Regions from separate parts of the Homo sapiens genome. Here regions 1 and 2 are each linked to region 3. Evidence: fine-mapped expression QTL. A gene starts in region 3. Each other region holds a variant in brackets. All regions are shown on one strand. Distances are from middle to middle.

Region 1 (8,187 bases), 83 kb before region 3:
TCTCTTCTCTTAACATGCTGGGAGTTGCTGTGGATTTTGATTCCATAGTCTTTAGCAAGAAAGAAGTTTCTGGGGAAAAAATATAATACTCAGATACTTTTTTTTCTGCAGAATAAAAGTCTTCCCGTATAATCTCCTCTGATTTATCTTTTCAAAACCTTTCCCCTGTTCCCAAAGCCATATAACCTACACAACCTAACATACTTTAAGTAGAAATACTGATGTTCACTTTCAAACTGGTGCTACTCAGCTGAAAAGGCCTCTCATGCTTACCTTTTTAACTATTCTTGTTCTAGTCTACATGGGCTGTAAACACTACTTCAAAATCTTATTTTTCCAATTTGTGAAAGGTAGATCTCTTCAAATGATTGGGCTTGAAACTGAAGAGGTTGTTAAAGAAGATAGTCGGGCTTTTTAAACTATAAAGAACTGGAGATGAGCTAAAGACATATTTCAGGGCATTTTATAAACATAAAATAATAATGGCAGTAATCAAGATGTCATTAAAAGATACATGAAACTAGCATGCAGGAAACGCACAGATTCAAGAACAATCTTCCTAGGATACCTACAGGATAATCAAGTTGGACTAAAATGTGTTGCATATTCATTCCCAATTAGTCTGAACTCAGTTAAATGATACTCTTTACAATGTTAGTCAAAGAAAAACAGATAACGCTAAAGTAAGATTAAGGGTGCTGATGGGCAAGGGATGGAGGGGGTGAAAATTAACCAAAGTATGAAACCCTCAGACTTCTGAGTGGCCTGGTGACCTTCTGAAGGCTATCTGCCAATATCTGAGTTTGAACTGAAACTTGAGTTTGGTAAACAGAATTGTGGTATTGTATAAATTTCAAATCAAATGTCCATTCAGAGGCTGTGTATTTTTCAGGTGTTTCCATGGTTACATAAAAAGAAAATTGTAATTCACATCTTACTACCCCAGGCTTTTAATACTAAAATCTTCAGAAGTCTTAAAATTGTAAGCCACTGATGTAATTTATTTGCCCCATTTCATTTCTGGTCATATAGTCTGAATTATAGTGGCAAACTACAGTAGCTTATTATTGCTTAATACCAATTCTAAATCTGATTGAGTGGTTCAAAGAATTCCCTTCTTAGCTAGAACCACCAGAGACAAGCCAGACCCACCTCTTGGTCTAGACAAGCTAGATCCATCCAATTCCAAAATGTCACTGGGTCCTGTCTTGAGATTCAGAGTACTTGAGTCAGTATTCAAGTACTGACTACGAGCGTTGCTTTATTTGTTTTTGAGATTTTCCACCATTCTTTCTGCTCCATAATATGAGAAAGTAACAAGATTTTAAGAGAACAACATTATCCATATAGAAAAATATATTAAAATATTCAAGCATCAAAGCTATGCCTATTTTGAGGCAACACAATGCTGCCTCTTATTTAAGCATGGCTCTATTCCCCAAATTGTGTTACTTCTAGCTTTTGGTTTAGAGATTTTGTGTTTGGTATTCAAGGTTAACTTCCTAGTTGATTCAATTATTAACAGTAACAACCGCCACTGTGAAAATGAGATGCTACACAATATTTGGCCTTAAAAGTTAAGAACCTATGAGTTAACTAGATGATCTAATCTAGCTTCAAATTAGCCACATGAAAATAAACTAAATGCTCTTTCCTCTTCATGTTGCAAAGCATTAAAATGTCATATTCTGTAACTTAAGAACGACTGTTCTCATTTGATTCAGGAGATGGTGTGGCATCTTTAATTCCTTTATCAATATTATCTCAGACCAACAGATGGAAGATCTGGCAATTAAGAAGAATGAGCATGTGGTGTACTTATGATGCCTCTTCCACCCCCCTGTGAAGTTTGCTTACTGAAATTTGTTTTACCTTATCCACCAAGTAGGGATTTTGGAGCCAAAAATTACTAAGAAAACATTAAAGAATTTAGGGAAATTAATGATATATTATAGAGGCAGAGACAGAGAATAAATTCGCCACTCTTTTCTCAGCCTATTTCTCTGTTGCAAGATTTTATTCTAACAGACAAGTATACAATATTCCTTGTTCTTTGTTCTTATATAGGGAAATTGTGACATAGATTTTGTCGATAGTAAGTTAGTCAACAAGCATATACTAAGCTTTTAGGCCCTACGGACACACTGGTGACAACAGATAATGGCCCTGTCCACTCTAGAACCAGCAAACTCATAGGAAAACAGGCAATAAGAAAATTACTTCATTTCTTAAATGTAAAAGAGTTGAATTTTAGATCATAGCTCCAGGGATCAAGACATGTTATGTGCTATATCCCTTTTCGTTCCAGCAAGAAACAGATAGTAAAGTCAAGCAAGTAAATGGGAGGTTTTAATAAAGGGAATATTTATAGAGTTGTGGGCAGGATTTAGTCTCCTAAAAGGACTAGTGTTGCACTCCAGTGTGGAACAAGGAATGGTGGAGTCCCCCAGGGCAATAACAAGGAATGGTATGGTACCCTAGGTCTAGTAACAGCAGGGAGCCAGCTGTAACAACCAGGTTCCTCCCCTGCCTTCACTAGCCATCCCTTTCCCTACACCACACACACACACTGAGAGAAATAATAAGGACAAGGTTGGGGGACCTGGAAGAAGAACTGTATGGAGAAATGTGCTGATAGAAACCATTGCCTCAGTGGAAGAAAGCAACAAACCCCCAGCAATCCGGCAGAGAGGAAGCTGGGGAATTAATACACCAACATCATTCTTTTCTATCCTGTCTCCTATTGGTGAATACAGGACCAGAACTAGGCATACAGTTTAAAGAGGCCCTCGCAGTACCCTGGGGTCCTCATTCCTTTTACCCTAATCCCAGCCCTGAGCAAACCCAATTAAAGCTGGAGGGCAAAGCAGCCTGTTGGAATTTTGCAGGGCACAGAGGAAGTCTGAGAGAGTAGAGAGCAAATTGATAGGAGAACAAGTAGAATACTTAGCACACCTCCCTTTATTTTTCTAAATCAAATTATACCTAGTCTAAGTCTCCATTCTTCTGGTTGCAGAGAAATTCAATTTCAGTAAATGTCTGGCTCCATTCACTTCCTTCATGGGATTATACTGATAGAAACATCCTGAAAATTTGTGGCAGAAATACTGGAAGAGGGGCCAGGTCTTGATGGTTGTGGCCTCCTCTAACTTTTTCCATTACAATACTTGATATTCCTCTACTTCAGGAATTTACGCATCTAGGTACTATCTATACAATATTATTATTTTCTTGATATGTTCTTCAAATTCATTTAATTAGTAGAAAAAAAGGAATAGCCATTCAACCATTTTTAACATGTAAAGAGTATATATATTCCGTATGCACATTAAAATAAGTAAGTAAATGGCTGCTTAAAATTAGTCTACATTGTTTGAAGTTAGGCAATATGATGCCCCAGATATATTCTTTTTGCTTAGTCTTGCTTTGGCTATGTGGGCTCTTTTTTGGTTACATGTAAGTTTTAGGATTGTTTTTTCTAGTTCTGTGAAGAATGATGATCGTATTTTGATGGAAATTACATTGAATCTGTAGATTCTTTTGGCAGTATGGTCATTTTCACAATATTGATTCTACCCATCCATGAGCTAAAGTTACCAAAACAGCATGGTGCTGGTATAAAAATAGGCACGTAGACCAATGGAACAGAATAGATAACCCAGAGATAAAGCCAAATGCTTACAGCCAACTGATCTTCAACAAAACAAAAACATAAAGCAGGAAAAGGACACCCTATTCAACAAACGGTGCTGGGATAATTGGCTAGCCACATGTAGGAGAATGAAACTAGATCCGCATCTCTCACCTTACACAAAAATCAACTCAAGATGGATCAAAGACTTAAATCTAAGACCTGAAACCATAGAAACTCTAGAAGATAACATCAGAAAAACTCTTCTAGACATTGGCTTAGACAGAGAGTTCAGGACCAAAAACCCAAAAGTAAATGCAACAAAAACAAAAATAGATGGGACCTGATTAAATTAAAAAGCTCTGCACAGCAAAAGAAATAATCAGCTGAGAAAACAGATAACCCACAGAGTGGGAGGAAATCTTCACAAACTGTGCATCCCACAAAGGACTAATATCCAAAATCTATAAGGAACTCAAACAAATCAGCAAAAAAAAAAAAAAAAAAAAAAAACCCACAAATAATCTCATTTAAAAGTGGGGAAAGAACATGAATAGACAATTATCAAAAGAAGATA[C/T]ACAAATGGCCAAAAAACATATGAAAAAATGCTCATCACTATCAGGCAAATGCAAATTTAAAATACCACCTTATTCCTGCAAGAATGGACATAATTTAAAAAAACAAAAAATACTCGATGTTGAAGTGGATGTGGAGAAGAGGGAACACTTTTACACTGCTGATGGGAATGTAAACTAGTATAACTACTATGGAAAACAGTGTGCAGTGTGGAGATGCCTTTAAAAAACTGAAAGTAGAACTACCATTCAATCCAGCAATTCCACTACTGGGTATCTACCCAAAGGAAAAGAAGTCACTATATTCAAAAGACATTTGCACACACATGCTTATAGCAGCACAATTCACAATTTCAAAAATGTGGAATCAGTCTAAATGCCCATCAACTAACGAGTGGATAAAGAAAATACCACTCAGCCTTAAAAATGAACAAAATGTCATTCACAGCAACCTGGATGGAGTTGGAGACCATTATTCTAACTGAAATAACTCAGGAATGGAAAACCAAATATCATATGTTTTCACTTATAAGTGGGAGCTAAGCTGTGAAGATACAGAGGCATAAGAATGACATAAAGGAATTTGAGGACTCGAGGGGAAGGTGGGAGAGGGGTGAGGGCAATGAGGGATAAAAGATTACACATTGGGTACAGTGTACACCAAAATCTCAGACATCACCACTAAAGAACTTATCCATGTAACCCAAAACCACCTGTTCCCCCAAAACTATCGAAATAAAATAAACTATAAAAGAATATTTAAAATATTAGTCCACATTGTGACCCTTGTTTGAATATTTTTGGCTTGCTCAATATTAAAGTCCATCTTCCCAACCACAGCTGCCCTGGACAAGCCCAGGGATGCATCTCATAGGAGTTATTTCCACACACCAGTTTTACAGCTTCCTTCTCCCCACTGGTGCAAAGCAGGGCTTGGTCTCTGCCAACTTGACCTTATTCTCTGTCTCAGCAGTCACTCTGACACTGCCTCTAACTCTGCCTGTCCATGCACTCTGCCCATCCTTTCCCTTCTCCACTGAGGAATCCACAATTAATCCTCCTGGATGGACCCAACCCATAAGATCTCCTGGCTCTACTAGTTCAAGAGTACTCAGAAATTTAGAAACATAGTAGTGGCTTCTCTGTTATGGGAAGAGAGAAGGGAATCACATCACTTATAAAATACGTTCTTCCTAATAATTCACACTGTCACTAAATAATAACAGCTGTTACGATGAAACAAACAGTGGTAAAGAAAACTGCCTGCAGGGAAGGAGGATATGACCTGCACAAACTTGGAAAGAATTGGCCACAGGCAGCCTAGAGAAAGGTGTGCAGAAGTCAGAGTGCCTGAGCTTGGCAGGCATTCTTGCTAATTTTGCAGGAGACCTTCCAAGTTTTCTAGGTACCTGCCTTATCACCTTTGCTAATGATGATAAACTGTTGCCTCAGGATTCACAGCTACCCTTTCACACTGCGTATGGATTTATTGCTATCAGCCTTAAACGGTAGATAGCAATTAAGGGAAGATGAGTGTGTGGTATAACATAAAAACTTGCAGGTGTTGCTTTGATCCTGAGTGACATCCAAATGTAATGGAATTTCTAGGGACAAATCTCCTGGAAACTATGTATAGTAACAAAGCTATTGATCTTTTTTTTTAATGGAAGAATAAAATTGCCCATCTGGGCATGCCCTGTAATGGCCCATGTGCTAATGCTTCCCACCCTAGGTCAGCACCGAAAGAGTTCAACTAGTGTAACTGGAGCCCAGTGAGAGCTGGGAACCTGGAAGAGGGACTATCTGGCTGGGGTTGTTACCACAGGACACTGCTACTGCTGAAGAAGCATCATTGACACATGGAGACAGCAGGGAAGAAACTCTCCGACCTTTTTCTCCTTCAACAAGCCAATTTCTTTCTTCTTGCCTCCCACTGGTTTAACCCAATGAGAAGCCAGCCAGAAAGGGAGGTGAAAAATGTCGACCTCAAGGATCAGCTTTGCAGGGCACAGAGCAGAGAAGAGAACAGGTTCAAGGTGGACGGGCAGAGGGAAGATGATTTGAGTTATTTTTATCTTCTCCATTTTAGACTCCGGAGATCCACTTAGCTCAGGTGAACCTGACAGGATGAGAAGGAGGGCTAGGAGAGGGCAGAAAATGCTCATTCCCCCTGAGCAAACTCTACAAAACTCATCGGTTTTTTCAACATTTTTGAGGTGGCATACTGACATGGCTGTAAGACTCTGATATAAAGACATAGGAAGTGTGTAATTGACCGTGAGAGTCATAAAAAAAGTATTAAGGATGCATTTTATTATGATCTTATCCCCTTAACCACTAATAGTATGGATATTGAATACTGAGTTAATAGAGAATATTCCATAATAGGATAGCAAAACAGCATTCATAGAAAATTGCCCTTCTATAAGCACCTTTTTTCAGAATATGTGGGTCACAGTGACACACCATCAAGATTTCTCATCAAAATGAAGTTATTAGTTCTCAGCTATCAGCACCATCCAGAGATTACCTTATCTTGAAGGAAGCCACTCATCCAAGGTCACACACCTTGTCCCAGTCCCAGAACAGCCCACATCCAATGACTGATTAACACAGGCCTGTAAAAGACCAGCCCTTTCATTCCAACTAGGGACCCAAGGGTCATGCCATCTTCAGAACTCCCCATAGGAATGACTGAGGTTTCCACTGGACTGCATCTCAGCCCAGCTTCTTTCTCTGCACAATCCTACTTCTTTTCCTCCCTTTTACAGGTTGATCCCAAGAGCACTCCCTAACAAAAGCCCACCATGTCGATCTCCGAGTGTGTTTTCCTGGGACTCAGCCGGCATCACAGAGAGATCCTAACAAATAAACATTTGTATTTCCCTATATTGTTCAACATGCCTCCTGTTTAAAACAGCAAAACAAAGAGATTATTTTCCTGCCAATATTTCATTAAACCCTCTACACATTAGTTTCCCTTTTCCTTTTTTTTTTTTTTTTTTTTTGAGATGGAGTCTCGCTCTGTCATCCACACTGGATTGCAATGGTGCAATCTCGGTTCACTACAACCTCTGCCTATGGGGTTCAAGTGATTCTCTTGCCTCAGCCTCCTGAGTAGCTGGGATTACAGGTGCATGCCACCATGCCTGGCTAATGTTTTGTATCATTAGTAGATACTGGGTTTCACTTTGTTGGCCAGGCTGGTCTTGAACTCCTGACCTCAAGATCTGTCCGTCTCGGCCTCCCAAAGTGCTGGGATTACAGGTGTGAGCCACCGCACCCAGACATTAGTTTCCCTTTTCTAAGATTTTAGTTTTGCTCTTGAAATGTACTTGGAGAAAATGAATAGACCTGGATTATTTAAAATAAAACCCCAAATACACCAAGTCTTATACCAGAAAACCAGAGAAGAAGGCAAAAGGAGAACCAAAGGCCAAGTCAAAAAGGGATGGGCCGGGTGTGGTGGCTCATGCCTGTAATCCCAGCACTTTGGGAGGCCCAGGGAGGCAGACCACTTGAAGTCAGAAGTTCGAGACCAGCCTGGTCAACATGACAAAACCCTGTCTCTACTAAAAGTACAAAAATTAGCTGGGCATAATGGTGCATGCTTGTAATCCCGGCTACTTGGGAGGCTGAGGCAGGGCAACAGCTTGAACCCTGAAGGAGAGGGTTGCCGTGAGCTGAGATTGTGCCACTGCCCTCCAGCCGGGGTGACAGAGTGAGACTCCATCTCAAAAAAAAACAAAAAAAGGTGATGAATGAGAATGTAAGAAATGTATTTACACATCCAATGAAAAAAATGCTTTGTAAATGGAAGGCAGATGCCTGGTCTCATGGACTTTTGCGATGGAAATCTACTAAGTGCTTTAATAGTATCTTATTTAATGGAAAAAGAGGAGATGCTGATGACTATAAATTATGTGTTGCATTATGGCAGTTATTAAATGATTATATATGTCAAGAAAAATGATGAAATTT
Region 2 (8,187 bases), 37 kb after region 3:
TTCAAGGTCTTTAGATTGTCTTCCTTCTCTTTACCATTCAGTTGTCTTATGTTTGTCTCATATATAATGTCCATCATTTTTAACTTTACTAAGTGGGATGAATGGAGAAAAGTATGTCTATTTCTTCTTCCCTGAAGGATGCAAGAGGAACTACTTTATTTAAAAAAATAAAGAGTAGATGATATGTAGTAAAGGAAAGTAATATTTCATAAAAACGTGGTTCAATTCATATACATAAAGATGATTGGTCATGGATTCACAATGTGAAATCTCTTTCTGTAGTATCATAGTTAAAAATATTTTTAAAGTCACCAGTGTAGACCACTTATCAATCTCTCAAAGTGATACCTGAATCCCTTGTCTAAAGCATCATAGAACTTCTGCATGTGTCTGCCCTTGTATTCTCCTCATGAATGAGAAGAGTTAATATTCATGCCTTGGACATCTTCTAAAGTCTGTCCCCACTTTACTGATTCTGCAATACCTAAGTTAAGCATTATTTTAATTTCCATTGTTTTAGGTTGTCTATGTATCAAGTGTAGGACAAGTGAATATTTGATGTGGTGATTAAACTTAAGTAGTCTTTGGAAAACTAGATTCCATTATAGCGAACTGTTTTTACAAAGATGAAATTGTTTCTGTAGACAAGTAAACCAGAGTGAGTGAGCATCGTGGGGCCCAGAGAAGACCATGTCCTTACACTGCTGCATGTGGTTTGAACGTCTGGCTGTGCTGAACAGTCATGTAGGTCCAGCTTGGGCAGCCACATCATCATTGTCAGGCTACTGTGGGCAGATTTGTGAGGACAATAGCACGAGTTTTGTGGGTTCAGTCTTTCAGTTTCCATTTAGTTTCTTCCCCTGTCTTTCTCATTGATGTAATAACTTCTTTTTTTCCAGTCTCTTCTTGCATGGAATAGGGGAGCCATCTATTATTGGCCACTTAGACTTGCTGGGGGTGGACATGTTCAGCTTTTAATGCTGCTGAATTACCCTTCTGGACATTTATATTTTACCCCTGTTTTTGATAGTGGGAAAAAGACCTCTATAGAAATTTTAAGCTTCAGCAAGTATATGTAATATCACATTTAGCTGACCAAGGAGAAATTTGGAAATCATATTCTGTCTCCTCATTGCCTGACCCAAGTGATAAAATTCAGCATAATTTAGCTCATTTAAATTAGCTGGGAGTGGGGAAGTACAGAATAAGTCAGAGGCTAGTCCTGCAAAGACCCATAAGTTCTTCCTTGATGTTGCTAGAGTAAAGGAGGCTGGGGTTATCAGGTCCCAGTGCCCTTCAGGTTATGGTTATACTCTACCCTAGAGCAAGGGCCAGCAAACTTTTTCTGCAAAGAGCCAGCCAGTAAATATTTCAGTCTTTGCAGGCCACGTGGTCTGTGTCACAGTTACTCACTGCTGCCATTGTAGCACAAAAGCAGACATGAACACTATATAGATAAATGAGCATGCCTCATTTATTATTTTCCAGTAACACTTTATGGACATTGAACTTTGAATTTCATGTAATTCCCATGTGTCATAAAATGTTTTTTTCCAATCACTTTAAAATGTAAAAACTATTTTGGGGTCACAAACCACATGAAAACAAACAGCAGGATGGATTTGGTCAATGGGCCATAGTTTGCTGACCCCTGTCCTAGAAGATATCTGCTGGGCAGTTTCCTTTGCCCAAGGAGATGTTGTGCTCCCTTTCTATTAGCTAAACCAAGCCTGTGTTCCTGAGACATACTTTCTGGTACAGTTGTTGTATTTTTATGTCAACACATTAATGACCAGACACACAGGAACACATTCCCATCCCCATTCATTGATGCAAAAGTTTTCATGAATGATCTGGGCACTTTTCTGGGTACCTTAGGACCCCAGCTAAGCAAGAAAGTTTCATCCTCAGGTCTTCAGAGTGTCATCTGGATTGATTACCTCTGATGTCAGAGTTTACTGATAATAACATGTATTCCTAAGGTATATTCCTAAGGTATATCTGTTATTCATACTATACTTATTCAGCTTTCTAAGTCATAATAGGAGCTGTGAAACCCAGACCAGAACATTTTACTAGGATTTCTGTTTTCTCTTTTAAAAAGAAGGGCTAAACAATCCTATGTTATTGGTTAAAATGGAAATGTGTCATTTTGCAGGGGTTCATCTGAAAGTTGTAGAAGACACGACTAACCATGGCTTAATAAGCAGAGAATTACTTTTCTCACAGACTCTCAAGTCCAGAGGAGAATAATGAAGAACAAAGTTCGAGTAGCCCAATGATGTCAGAGCCAATGTGACTATTATTCTCTTGACTTTTTTTCATCTTTGTAGCCCTGTGGTCACAGCATGTACTGTAGCAGTTCTAGATATCACATATGCCTTTAAGGCAGAGACAAAGGGGAAGAGTGATGTTAAGATCTTTCCTCTTTTGTCAGTTCCAGAACTGTTTGTTTCCCATCAAACTTCTGCTTATGTGCCCTAGGGAGGAATCTGTCATCAACCTCACTTGTAGCTGCAAGGGAAGCTGTGAAATTTGCTATTGGCGTTGTAGCCATACTTCAGTAGGTGGCAAAAATGAGAGTGTTGAGAATGTGTAGCCCATCAGAAGTGTCTGCTACAAAGAGTTACAGACTTTTTGTGATGTTCACATTACTTCTTGAGGGTAGTCTCTGCTGAATTCGAATCCAGAATACAATAAATGAAGCACCTATAATAATTAATATAATGAATTAAACATATTGGAGAGTGTTATGTGTATATTATATTAGGGAAGTGTTAAAGAAGGACCATCTCCTTCAGGAACTTTAGCTAGAAGCAAGACATAAACATGAAATTTGAAATAACCTATCTCAATTCTAATAACTAATGGTGGGGATTGGAGTATATTTGTTTTTAAGGTCACTGATTCATTTAGCAACATTTATTGAGGGTTGAGTATGTACAACTGTTTAGGCTTTGCAGGTGCAAAGATGAATAAGATAGTCTCTGCTTTGCAGATGGCAGTCAAATAAATCAGTAGTTTCAGGATAGCTTTATGGTTTTGTGATTTAACATTTTTGGTGAATTACACAATTAGATTGGAAGCAACTTTTATTTGCTTTTTTGAAAAATATATGTTACGCATCAGTACCGAATGGCAGTGAGTAGGATTCAATCAGTATCTTTCCATCATATCTATGCTCAGTCTATAAACAATGATTGAGCACCTACTGTAAGGTAGTTATGTGGCTACACACTACATTTGTAAAGCTCAGCAAGAAGTAGTCACTTCTTCTGGGGGCTCCTAGTCATAGATTTAGCAGACCTGTCAATAAATATTTGCAACACATGGTACATACACACACATACAGATCATATAAGAAAAAGAGGTGGCTGGGCAATGTAGCTGATGCTTGTGTTCCCAGGAATTTGGGAGGTCGAGGTGGGCAGGTCGCTTGAGCCCAGGAGTCTAAGACCAGCCTGGGCAACATGGCAGAACCCTGCCTCTACAAATAATACAAAAATTAGCTGGGTGTGGTGGTGCACACCTGTAGTCACAGCTACTTGGGTGGCTGAGGTGGAAGGAACACTTGAGCCTGCGAGGTTGAGACTGCAGTGAGCCATGATCACACCACTGCACTCCGGCCTGGGCAACAGAGCAAAACACTGTCTCAAAAAAAAAAAAAAAAGAAAGAAAAAGAGGAGAAGTGTTTTTATTGCTTAAGAGGATATACTGGGTGCAAGACTAGTTAAAGCTTTACAGTAGAAAAAAGAGAAAAATTAATATTTCCTGAAGCAGTTATCTATGCAAATAAGGGAAAGGAAGAGCATATGATGTAAAAGGTCAGTTCTGTCAAGGTAGAGAAGCACAACACATTTCAGGGCACTGCTTGCAGTTTCTATGTGGGGGTTCCTTGGTTGGGGAGCCAGCTCATTCTGAGGGGCAACTGGGAGTGTTTTCACAGTGTCTCTATTCAAGGCAAAACTCAGAATAGAGGAACATTAAAATTTAATAAGTCTCCATCCCTTGTTTCATGACAGAGAGTGGTGTGGGTGGAGATTGGAAGAACTGGAAGTTGGGTGGCTTCCTGGAGACTAAGATGCACTTGTTCTTGGGAATGACAGCAGATGCCAATGCACCCCTCAACTCTTCTAGCATCACTGTGAGCAGAGAAAACAAGGCCTGGCACTTCATTCCAGGTAGCCTGTTACTGTCACCTAAATCACATGAGAATGGCATCCCTCAGCCACTAAGCCTTGGAGAGCCCAGGCTCATTTCCAGCAATCAGCAATCCAAGCCCTGCTTCTGCTGATTAGGACAAGACCTGTTTTGGAGAACATTTCCTTTCCAGGAAAATTCTGAAGTAACCTCATACTTTTGAGCTATAATTTTTACCATTTTATTAAAAAATAAAATAACATTCTAGATGAAAATCACGATGATATTATTCATAAATAAACTCTCAAACCTTTGAATAAAAATATCTTTGGAACCTCTCTTTCCATTTATGGAGGTATTAGGGAAGTTAAAATGAGAGGGAGTGGGGTTTTTAAGTTTTTATTTTTTTATTGTGACAAAATATACATTAAATTCATCATTTTAATCATTTTTAATTATATGGTTCAGTGGCATTAGGCACATTCACATTATTGTATAACCATCATCACCATCCATCTCCAGAGAGTTTTCATCATCCCAAAGTGAAACACTATACCCATAACTTACCAATAACTTCCCATTTTCTCTCCCACAGCCCATGTGTAGCCATTGTTCTATTTTCTTTCTCTGTAGATTTGATTAACTCATATAAGTGAATCGTCCAATAGTTGTCCATTTTTGTCTGGCATATTTCACTTTAGCATAATGTCTTCAAGGTTCATGCATGTTGTAG[T/C]ATGGATGAGAATGCCATTCCTTTTATAGGCGCAAAATATTTCATTATATGTATCACATTGTGTTTATCCATTCATGCATCCACAGGCATTTGGTTTATGCCTGTTTGACTGTTATGAATAATGCTGCTATGTACATGAGCATACAAATATCTTGAGTTCCTGCTTTCAGTTTGTGTGTGTGTGTTTGTGTGTGTGTGTGTGTGTGTGTGTGTGTGTGTATACCTACAAGTTGAATTGTTGGATTAAATGACAATTCTGTGTTTAATTTTTTGAGGAACCACCATACTGTTTCCCACAGGGGGTGTATCACTTGACATTCCCACCAGCAATGCACCTGGTTTTCAATTTTCTGGGGAAGTAGGTTTTTACACATGAAAAAAACATGGTGCCTTCAAAAGGGCATTTCAAAACAATGCTAAAATATGTGCATTTGCAGTGAAACATTTCTCTCTTAAATTTTTTTAAGAGCAATGTTTGTGAAATTCATTTTGGTTTTTAACTCTTCATTTTGAAGAATTCAATATTAATGACATTCAAATTAAGTAAAAGTGACAGCAGCAGCACTTCCCATAAAGACCACAAGCTGCCTGCGGTGTCAGTTCAATGACTAGGAATCCGTCAGGCACAGGAGTGGTGGTGAAGATTAGGGAAACGAGAAGAGGGTCTCGAAGCCGACCAGTGAGCTGCCAAGCCCATTAAATTAAGTAAATAACTTTAGGGAAAACAAGAAAGGGCAGTGATGAACACAAAAAAGAGAAATCAAAAGGGGACACCTTTGACACAAGCAAAGAGATGGAGGTCATGCATTGTAAGAGGCCATTGGAGAGTTGTTTGATTTGTAAATATTAGGGACATGAAATTTCAGGGAAAACAAAGCAAAGTCTATCAAAAATGGTTTTAAATAAATAATTCTAAGTACAAAAACCTAAATCAACTACTGGGGAGTTTGCAGTGGAGGAAGGAACAGCTATGGAGGATTAAAATATTTGTGTGAAAAATAAGCCTACGTGTGTGGAAAGTCAAAAAACTGTATTCTGCCTCCTGTTTATAGATACCTTACATTTTGAATGCCAAGTATTTACTAGCAGAGAAAAGCTTTCTTCTGATTTAAGGCATGATTGCGTAAAGGAAGGGAATTGCTGGTTCATTCTGCAGCTGAACAAGTGTTTCCTTAATGTCTCTTATGTGCCAGGTCCTGGACTCAGGAATGGAAGTCATGGAGATGAAAAACAGATGGTACCTGCCTTCCAGGAGCTTACAGTTGTGCTGGGCAAGGCAGACAGATCAATTACATGGACATTCTTAGTACTGTGAGGAAAATGAAGCACCAGGGGACTGTGCATGAGGGAGCATAGGGAATGGTTTCTTGCTGTGGTAGCCAGAGACTCCTAAAAGGCTTTCTGAAGAAGAGGTCTGAGCTGACATGAGGTGAATAGGACTTAGCCTCCCAAAGAGCAGGAGATAGGATTAGGTTGGAGTAGGACCAGCATTTCTAGGTGGTGGGACCACCGTGATCAGAGGTGAAGGAAGTATAAGAGTCAAATTTGGTGGGGAGGTGATAGGGGAAGAGAATAGGAGGTCTACCAGCAGTTCAGTGGTATTCCTAGGTCATGAATTTCAAGGTAGGAAGCAGCAGAGGATAAAGCTAGACAGAAAGATCAAAGCTACACATTTTTCTTTTCTTCATTAATGTCTGAATCCATCCCATGCCAATCCCCCATCTCCCTACACAAGCACACCTTTTAAAAATAATCACAACTTTGATGTATTTAATTGAATATTCATTGTAAGTAGGCCAGTCTTTGGAGATGGAGAAGCTGATTGATAATAACAGTAATTAGCTTCAAGCTCTCAGAGGCTTTGGCTACTAAGTTCTCTTTCCAGCACTGCCTAAAGTGGGCATTGTTGTTGGTTCCCCAGCATCCATTCTGCTACAGCCCTGTTGAGTAGCAGCAGTGTGGTTTGGGGAATTGACCTGAGCTGGTCAGTTGGTTTAAGGGTAATCCTATTTCCACTGCCAGCATGTTAGTTCAGTAATAGGCATGTAATTCACTCCTGGCCAATGAGAAAAGAGAATAAAATTTGAAGGAGGTTTGGGAGAAAAAGCCATAGTCAACCAAGCCCTTTCTGCTTCAAGATGAAAACTAAAGCTTGTAGTCTAGATGCTACAAAGGGACCCAGGTTCAGGATAAAGTCGGTGCTATGGATAATAGAATGGAGAAAGAAAAAAAAAAAAGCACAGTGCTTGATGAAACTACCGAGATGCAAATCAGCTAATTCTGAACTTGTGCCATCACTGGACTTCTTGTTCTGTCAGCTAATAATTTTCCATACCATTTAATCTAGTTTGGATTTTTCCATGTGTAATATGAAATCGTGTATACTAAATGGGCCATGATTTTTGTGACTTTTCTGTACACACCAGTATAGTATGCCCTTTTGTGAACCTAACCCATTTGAGCCTCATTTTCCTTATCTGTGAAATGAACATAGTTATGTCTCAGAGTTTTTCATGAAGATCATTTGAGATTCAGAACAAAGCCCAAAAGGGAGGTATGAACTAATACATGTTAAGTGCCCAGAGTGTACCACTAAATAGGAAGCTTAGAGACTAGGAGAAGAGAAATTCATAAATAATGTCCACATAAAGTGGTAGAAATAAGATCACGTGCATTTGGACCTTTGTGCAATCAGTTTGTTTTTTTAAAGAAATATCATTGAATATTTGAGCAGTATGTTAGGTGTAGAGCTGTTGGATTTGCTGATAGATGAAAGGAAAGTGATGGATCATAGAGTGATGTTAAGGATGTCTCATCAGTTTCTGTGTAACTTGCGAAGACTGAAACAGGCAAATTGTTTCTGCTGCAGTTTTACTTGTCTGACATTCATAAGAAAGGTGTGTCTAGGCTGCAGTTAATATTTGGGAGTCACCAGAATGTTGATTGGGAACATAGGAATAGATGATATCTATTAAGGAGGGAGTGGATAGTGGGAGGAAAACACCTCACTTCTTTTGGGAAGCCTGCCTCATCCCTCAGGTCTAAAGTACTCATCAGAATCCTGGCAAAGATGAGGCAAAGAGGAAACTATGGCCTAAATGGAGTGCCGAATAGAGAGTTGGACTTTTTGAGTCACGGAAGCTGGCTGGAGGGGAAGAATGCTGAGAAAGGGGAAAGCCTAAAGATGTTGGGTAAAAGATTATTGATGAAGTGGAGACCTGGGGAAGATGGGGGTATTAAGTATCTGGCCTTAACTTCTCTGTGAATAAAGGAAAGGGGATGAGGATAGGAGTTTACCTGAATTTGAAGAGTTG
Region 3 (8,187 bases):
TTGGCAAATATCCTGAGGCCCTTGCTACTGCTTAACTGAATTATATCCATGTTCTTTGGGAATGGCCTCTCAGGCTTCCATGGATGATCAAAAGAGCAAACACTTATTGGGCATCCATTATGTGCCAGGACAGCGCACAACACTATAGATACTCTCTCAGTCACTGCTGAGCCCCAAACTGTGAGCTAGGTAATGTATACATTACACAATTAATAGCATTACAATACATGTGGGAAAACCAAGGCACAGAAATGTCAAAGAACTTTGCTAATAACCAACATCGAGTAAATGAGAGTCAGGATTACAATCTAGTTCTGTATGTCTACGAAACTTGAGTACTGAAGCCAAATATTCAGATAACCAGTTAATATAAAGGTAGACAGATTCTGCTCAAATTTTGAAGACATAATTTAAGTCTGATTTTGAAAGTATAGTTTAGACGAACGATGGTATAGAATATCACCAACTTATCAACAAACAGATAACACACAATGCGATTTAATTATGCACAATGTGATTTAAGCAAAAACAACTAGGCTTTTGCTTAAATCATGTTCCCTGAAATATGCTTACTTCCTCCAATGGAAGCCTGATATAACTTGAATGGTTGGCACTTTATTCATGACTCAAGGATTAGAGTTAGTATTTTTTATCTTAATTACAAAAAAATTATTTTTTTCCTCTCAGTTCCTCCTGTCAAAAATTTTACTTTTTAGGGTTTGAATCCTTTTGGTTAGGTTTAGAAGATCTCCCTGAACAGAATAGAAACATAATCTATTTACTTTTTGAGATTTATGAATGTTTTCTGTAGAGGCTTGTGAATATAGCAACCGAGTTAGAACAATAAATACAGTAAAGTACTTATATGTACTATTTTAAATCTTAGAATCCAGTGAAATCTGTAGCCTCATCTCAATATTTCTTTTTTTATTTAATTCACTATAAGGTAATGGGCTTTTCCTTCCCTTTCTGTGCTCTCTGATATATTCAGAAATTTTTGAATCATTCTAAATATCACAATTTCTGATATTAAAATATTTTAAACCCTTCATTTTATTAGTAATGACAATTCCTATTTGGCCAAGTGCTTATGAATTCAGATTTGTGATCACGTAATCAGTATTGAAATCTAGATGGAGTAACATCACAGAGTTCTACACTTAGGTAGACCTCAATCCCCTTGCTACAATTCATGTTTTGGAGACATGGGGCAAATTACTTAAATTCACTGAGCTTCAATTTCCTCATCTGGAAAATAGTGATATCTGACAATATTGTAGTGATTAAAGGAGATGATGTATGTCAAGATGCTTAGACAGAGCTTGGCACTTGTAATTTCCCAACAAATGCTACTTATAACAAGGATAAAAAAATAGTAGTAATAAATTATCTATTGAGTACTTACTATGTAACCACAATTATGACCAAGAATCTGGAAGATATGAAGCATAAGACTCAGTTCCAGCACTCGAAGTGCTTATATACTATAAGGAACAAACAATAGCATCATAATGAACACAGAATTTGGCTTATGAGAGGTATGGGATGAGGTCTGGACTTTGCCCCTTGCTAAAATTGGGTATATCTGTTAGGAACTGTACTTGGCTGCTGATAAAAAAGACCAAAAATAAGTCATGATTGCAGTCTGTGAAAGATACTAAAGCAGAAGCTAAGCTGTGCCCAAATTACTGAGCCACAGAAACTGAAGTAATACATGGGTATTGTTGTAAACCACTAAATATTGGGATAATTTGTTAACAGCAATCGATTAATACATGTGGCTCATCATGTTGTTGTATACAATTGTAATTCCTTCATTTGCATTACTTTATAGGAGGGTTTGGAAAGCTTTTTTTCTGCAAAGGATCAGGTAGGAAATATTTGAGGCTTTGTAGGACAAGAGGCAAAATTGAGGATATTATGTAAGTATGTCTTTATAATTTCCAGGCTTTGCAAATTATACTTTTTTTGTTTTTTTTCCAACCATTTAAAAATGTAAAAATCACACCTAGCTGGTGAGTTATAAGAAATAAATGGTGAGCCATATTTGGCTCATTGGTCTTAGTTTGTTGACCCCTGCTATATGGAATTATTTGGTTATACCACAGTTCATCTCTCCAATCTGTGTTGATAAATATTTGAGTTGTTTTCCATTTGGGAACATTAAAATAATGCAGCCACAAACATTCTTGCACATGTCTTTTGGAGAACATCTGTATGCATATTTGTTTGGTGTAAACCTAGGAGTAGAACTTCTGGGTCACAGGATAAGCATATATTCAGCTGAATATTTCAGATGGTTTTCCAAAGTGGTTTTGTGAATTTGCACACCACCAGCAATATATAAATCTTTATTGCTTCACAATCTTGCCAACGGTTGGTATTTTGTGTCTTTATCTTTCAAACATTCTAGAGATAAATGTAATTTTTTTTTAGTACTTCCCAGGTGATTCTAATGTTCAGCCAGAATTGAAAACCTCTGCGCAACTATTGTTTATCCCTTATTAGGCAGAACCACATGAAATTGTTCTATTTGTAGGTTTTAAAAATGGTCAAACATTGGCTATTTCATATGGTAGAAACTAACATCTCCTTCACATTTTATTTATACTAAAAATAAAACTCGTCTAGAATGCACATCACTGGGAAAAATATTAAAGATGAGCTAAGATGAAGTTTTAAAATTAACCACAGATTTCAATGACTTTTATATTTTTATATCACCCAGATATTTAAAAGCTTGGAACCAGACCAATGGTTTTCACCCTCAATGAAGACTGGAATCACCTGTGGGTTTTTAAAACCTGAGTGCCTCTACCCAAACCCCCATAAGCTCTGATTCTGTGAGACTAAGATAAAAGCTTAGGAATATATATTTGTAGAAGGCTGATGCACAGCCAAGGTTGAGAACCATTGATACTACCTGTCCTATGGCTTTCTTTCACATTCATTCAATCTCAGAAAATACTTAACACTTTGGTGATTTTATATACATAAAGTAGTGAAGCACCTGGATTTCAGTTCTTTCCAGAGTTTAGAATGCTTGGCTGTGTATTAGGTCGGAAAATTCTTTTTCCCATGGAAATTATGTCTCACTGAATGGGTCTCTCTCTACTGTACCTAAAAGAGAGGCTTAGGTTTGACTTGTACACAGCTCCATGGACTCAGAATTAAAGTATCAACAAGAGCATTTAATGGTTACACGCAGGTATTTTTTAAAGTACCTATACACATATTATTATTATATATTACCCAGTAGGGGAACTAAGCATGTAATTAGTGACCAGAACAACAGGTGTGCATGTATACACTGAGAAACGAAATTGTTTTGAAAAACATTTTTTTTTTTTTGCTGATGACCAAGACACACAAAAATGTCTAAGTAGTCATCATGGGAAGAATCCGATTTTTGTACTTCCTCATTTTACAGAGATTAACATTATATATGAGTGACTGGGTGGATGTGGTACCAAATACATTTGTAAACTGAAGGCCTTTAAAAGTCAATCCAGTCTTGAGCCAGATTTATTCCCGAGGCTATTCCCTTACCCCTTCCAGCCACAACTGTATCCGTATTTTCACACGCAGGAAAAAATGTTTAGAAACTTAATTTTTACGAGCTGTCGAATTGTATTGCTATCCACGTGATTCCCATTATCATGTCTGCTTATAGCATCCCCAGCACCTACAGCTAGGACATAGGTTCAGAAGTTGAAGGAACCTGATTCTCAGGCACTGTTAATTATTAGGCCCTATCACAGGCTGTCAACAGGCTCCAAGTCTAGGCAAATTGAAAGCCTCCTATCCTGGAAGCCAGACAGGCTTTCATCTGACCTCCTCCGGTGCAATCCTGGCTCCCAGACTTTGTTCCTAACAACCCCTTGGGGACGTTGCCTATTGGGGTTTAAGCCACTCCTCCTCCCCTACACCCCCATGCCAAGTATTTAGCCACCTGAACCACCCTGTAGGATAAGACAACTGTATCAACCGTCGGAATTCCCCCACAAAACCCATACATCTCAGGGTGCGAAGGAACAAGTTTCAACCTCACCCTGGGCAGCGTTCTCTGGCCCAGGTGGAGAACCACACAGGAGGACAGTGGTCCTGCTCTCCCTACTAAATGGTGGTTCAGGAGGCCAGGGGGCGGGGCGGTACCGGCGGCAGAGGCCCACGGACGAGCTCGCAGGAGCTCATCACACAGCTGACCGTCACCTGCCCACCTCACCACACCTGCTAGGTGCCAAACCCCTTGTAATGGACAGGGAAGGGCTCAATCACGGGTCCCTACTCTTAGCAGCGAACCTATCTCAGCGCACGGCCTCCTGGGAGATGTAGTCCAGACCGCTTCCCGGGAACCCCCCCCCCCTCCCCCCCCGCCCCGCCACAACCAGGCATCCCTGGTCCCCTCACAACTTCCCCAGGAGAGATTGCTCGGCCTGGCCAGCTGAAGCTGGAGTTGCTCTCCAAGTGTCGGGGCCAGGCGGCACTCCGCGGAGGAGTCGGGGTGCTCTCCCCAGTCCGAGCGAAGGGAGGGAACTACACTTCCCAGGACGCCCTGCGCGCGCCGAGCCGGGAGCCGGCTGCCTCGCTTTGCGTGACCGCGGCAGGTTGGTCCTGGAGCAGATAAGCGCAGAATATTTAGGCGAAAGCGAGAGGAAGGGGGGAGCGCGGGGCAGGAGGAGTACCTCGGCCAAGAAAATTATGCATGCGTTAGGGAAGCTCTGAGAGAATGGCTGTGGAAGGTAAGGGACGCTTGGGGCATTTTTAAGCTCCCTCTTAACCCGCGCACCCCAAGGCACACATCCCCGATGAAGCTTGGCGATCGTGGGGAGGCGAGGAAAGGGGGTGGCGGAGAGCGGGCCCCTTCCTCCTCCACCTCTTGGCACTCACCTGCGCCGCCAAGGCCAGTAGGCGCTTTAATTCAGTTGCTTTGGAGAGACGTGAAGGGTAGGTGCGTAGGACTTTGAGGTAGGAGGTGTGGAGACGAGTGTCCCTGATGCGAAACGATATCCTGGAAATGGGGGGAAAGCCGGAGGATCCGGCATGAGGTTTTGGCCCCGAGATGCCCTTTTTCCCTGCCCCCTCCCTCCGGAGCAGGCTGGGTGGCCCCGGGGCTGGGGATGCTTGGTTGGCCCCCCTCACGTGGGAGAGGTCCCCAGCCCAGGTGCGTCATCCGGAAGCTTGGACTGGGATTGGGTCGAGGGCCCTTCGTCCTATGCACCCAGCAGCGGCGGCCGCAGATGTACCCAGAGGGTAGAGGTGTCCCTACACCTGTCTCTGCTTATACAGCCAGCGCCCCGGGCTTAGCAAAGTTTACAGACATGAAATGTAATCAGCCAGGGAAAAGAAGTGCAACAACCTCTTCGATTTGGGTGAATCCTTTTCTTTGAAGATCACTTTCTTCTTACAGTCTTGAGCTTCGGCTTTGCAGTTTTGACCGTAAAGTCCTGCCTCCCTTGAACTTCCTGGTTGAAAGCAGGGTCAGGCTGTTCGTGAGGGATCCTGAGTTTTTCATTTCAGGTTATCTTACCTTGGAACACAAACTTCCTTGTTTAGGTAGTTTCTGAAGAAGAAAAAAAAACTGTGGACCGGAAGGGTTTGTGATGTCACATTAGAGGTCAAGCTGTGCCTGAATGATGAAATGATTGTGGGACGAAATGGGAGCCTACATTCACCTGCAGAATTTTGGTTTCTGAGTGCAGTCAGGTCAGAGGGCGTACTGAAGTAGGAAGAGGAGGGCTTGCCTGCCAGCTGCTTCAGGCGCCTTGCCAAGGGGAAATCAGCCTATTCCTTGTAGGCTAGAGACGAGAAGGCCACGAGGCTGGCTTGCTGCTCCCTCTCCTCCCTGCCCCAGGAGAAAGAAATTGAACTAATCTGACTCTTGCTCCCCTTATAACGACTGTCTTAACAACCTGAAGTAGCAACAACCCAGCTCCTATACTCAGCACCCATAAACTCGGGAAACTCTTGCCTTTGGGCTATCTCAGGTTCAGAGATCCACAGCCAGCCACTTCCAGCTTTCCTAACTTTATTAACAAAAATGAAATCCTCTCTCTCTCTTACAATCAAGATTTTTCTAGGTTTTCTTTTCTGTGCAAATGTACCAGTAGGGTGAGAATCTTTTTTTTTTTTTTTTTTTTTTTTTTGCATCGTTATGCTTGATAGTCAAGACTTCAGATGCCAAAGAACAAAACAAAAGCCGAGATAAAGTTCATCTTGAGCTTGAGACCAAGGATATGTTGACCTACTCCTTAAGTGTCCGTTCTATGTCACCCATCAGGTGACACTGATTATGATCTCTCGTCTTCACCACTCCTGTGTCCCCAAGACAGGGACACTCCTCTTTGTTGCTAGTCCACACTGTTCTCGAAAACAATTTCTTGTTCCCTGTAAGAAGTATAAATTTGTCTTATTTCTTGCGTGATGGGTGATTACACCAGTGAAGCCAGACTTTACAAAAACAAGAACTTAGGAAGGAAGTACATGTGGACTATGGAGAGTTTATTTTCTAGTGACTTGGTTAAAGTACCTGTCTAGTAAACAGGAGATCCTGAGTTTGAATCACAATGAGGTCTCAAAGAATGAAGGAAGTATTTTAAACTTTAACTTCAAATATGATTCCTATCTTTGGTCTTTGCAAAGATATCAGCCTGGACCAGTCCCTTCCTGGTTACTCCTACTTGGTCTTTCAAGCCTTTGGGAAAATGTCACTTCCTCTGGGAAACTGTCCCAGCCCTCCTTTTTCTTCTGCCTTCTCAGCACTCTTTCCAGTCTATGGGAAGTGCCTCCTGCTCACATTTATCTTAATACTTATCATACTTAATCTGCCTCTTACTAGACTCTAACCCCCTTGGGGGTTAGACTTGGACTTTATATTCCTAGCTCATAGCACAGTACTTTGCCCATAATAGGTACTCAATGCTCATGAATTGCATGGCAAATATATTCATGGAGGTTTTGTAACTGGTTCTATAAGGGTACATGGGGCTTTCTTGGAAGCCTAAATGTGATACAATAAGGGATTTCTGACAGATTTGAGGATGGGAGATTTTTTTTTTTTTTTTTTTGAGACAGAGTCTTGCTCTGTCGCCCAGGCTAGAGTACAGTGGCGCGGTCTCAGCTCACTGCAAGCTCCGCCTCCCAGGTTCACGCCATTCTCCTGCCTCAGCCTCCCAAGTAGCTGGGACTATAGGCACCCGCCACCATGCCTGGCTAATTTTTTTGGTATTTTTAGTAGAGACGGAGTTTCACCATGTTAGCCAGGATGGTCTCGATCTCCTGACCTCGTGATCTGCCCACCTCGAAGTGCCCTTCTCTTCAGTCTTTTGTCTTGATGCCCAAAAAATCTTTTAGAACAGTTTACCTCTACTGCTGGGTGACATTGTCCCTGGACACATTTGGGATATGTAGGAACTGCTGCTGGGGGCTGCTGTTGGTATTTTGTGCCCATGGCCACAGATAATAAATGTCCTGCAGCGCATGGCCATCCCGTATAACGAGGCCAAGCCATGGCCAAGTAATGATCAGTTTACCCAACTTATTGAGAAATGCTGCTTCAGAGAATAAGGAGTTTTGCCAGAGGAACTGGAATAGAAAATACAGTTCGAATTGCTTAACATTCTAAGCTTTAGTCTCCACATCTGGAAAAAATGGGCTCACTACTGCTTTCCTCCTGGGAACATTGTGAGGATTTTTTTTTTTTTTTTTGAGACGGAGTCTTGCTCTGTCGCCCAGGCTGGAATGCAGTGGCGCGATCTCGGCTCACTGCAAGCTCCGCCTCCCGGGTTCACGCCATTTTCCTGCCTCAGCCTCCCGAGTAGCTGGGCTACAGGTGCCTGCTACCACGCCCGGCTGATTTTTTTGTACTTTTAGTAGAGACAGAGTTTCACCATGTTAGCCAGGATGGTCTCCATCTCCTAACCTCGTGATCCGCCCGCCTCGGCCTCCCAAAGTGCTGGGATTACAGGAGTGAGCCACCGTGCCCTGCTCATTGTGAGGATTAAATAAAGGAGAGGGCTTCTAGAAGGGTGTCTGGAACCTGCATCCTAAGTAAATATCACTTGTACTCTCATCCCTTCTCTTAGGAAAAGCTATACTATTTGGCATGTGTTTTATATCCTGAATTTTCACTTATTCATGCCAGCCAGTTTTTCTAATTAGTAACAAATTAGAAGGTTTTTTACTATG

The links. PIP is the estimated chance that this variant, and not a neighbour inherited with it, causes the effect.
Region 1: its variant is fine-mapped to the expression of SAMD12 in whole blood (TOPMed, PIP 0.95).
Region 2: its variant is fine-mapped to the expression of SAMD12 in esophagus mucosa (GTEx, PIP 0.96).

The regions. Positions count from the first base shown.
Region 1 is chr8:118,701,337-118,709,523 of GRCh38, reverse strand. The region is part of intron 3 of SAMD12-AS1 (SAMD12 antisense RNA 1); the gene reads right to left. Among named protein-coding and RNA genes, the nearest start is that of SAMD12, 83 kb to the right of the region's middle. The variant C/T (reference allele first, on the strand shown) is at 4,209.
Region 2 is chr8:118,581,828-118,590,014 of GRCh38, reverse strand. All of the region lies in intron 1 of SAMD12 (sterile alpha motif domain containing 12), which reads left to right. Among named protein-coding and RNA genes, the nearest start is that of SAMD12-AS1, 35 kb to the left of the region's middle. The variant T/C (reference allele first, on the strand shown) is at 4,874.
Region 3 is chr8:118,618,359-118,626,545 of GRCh38, reverse strand. SAMD12 (sterile alpha motif domain containing 12) reads left to right here and starts at 4,583. Exons shown (of 4, transcript NM_207506.3): 1 at 4,583-4,742. The coding sequence starts at 4,730. SAMD12-AS1 (SAMD12 antisense RNA 1) reads right to left here and starts at 5,545. Exons shown (of 5, transcript NR_038210.1): 1 at 5,360-5,545; 2 at 4,891-5,011. RefSeq lists a silencer at 4,241-4,390 and enhancers at 4,491-4,690, 5,301-5,510, 5,541-5,590.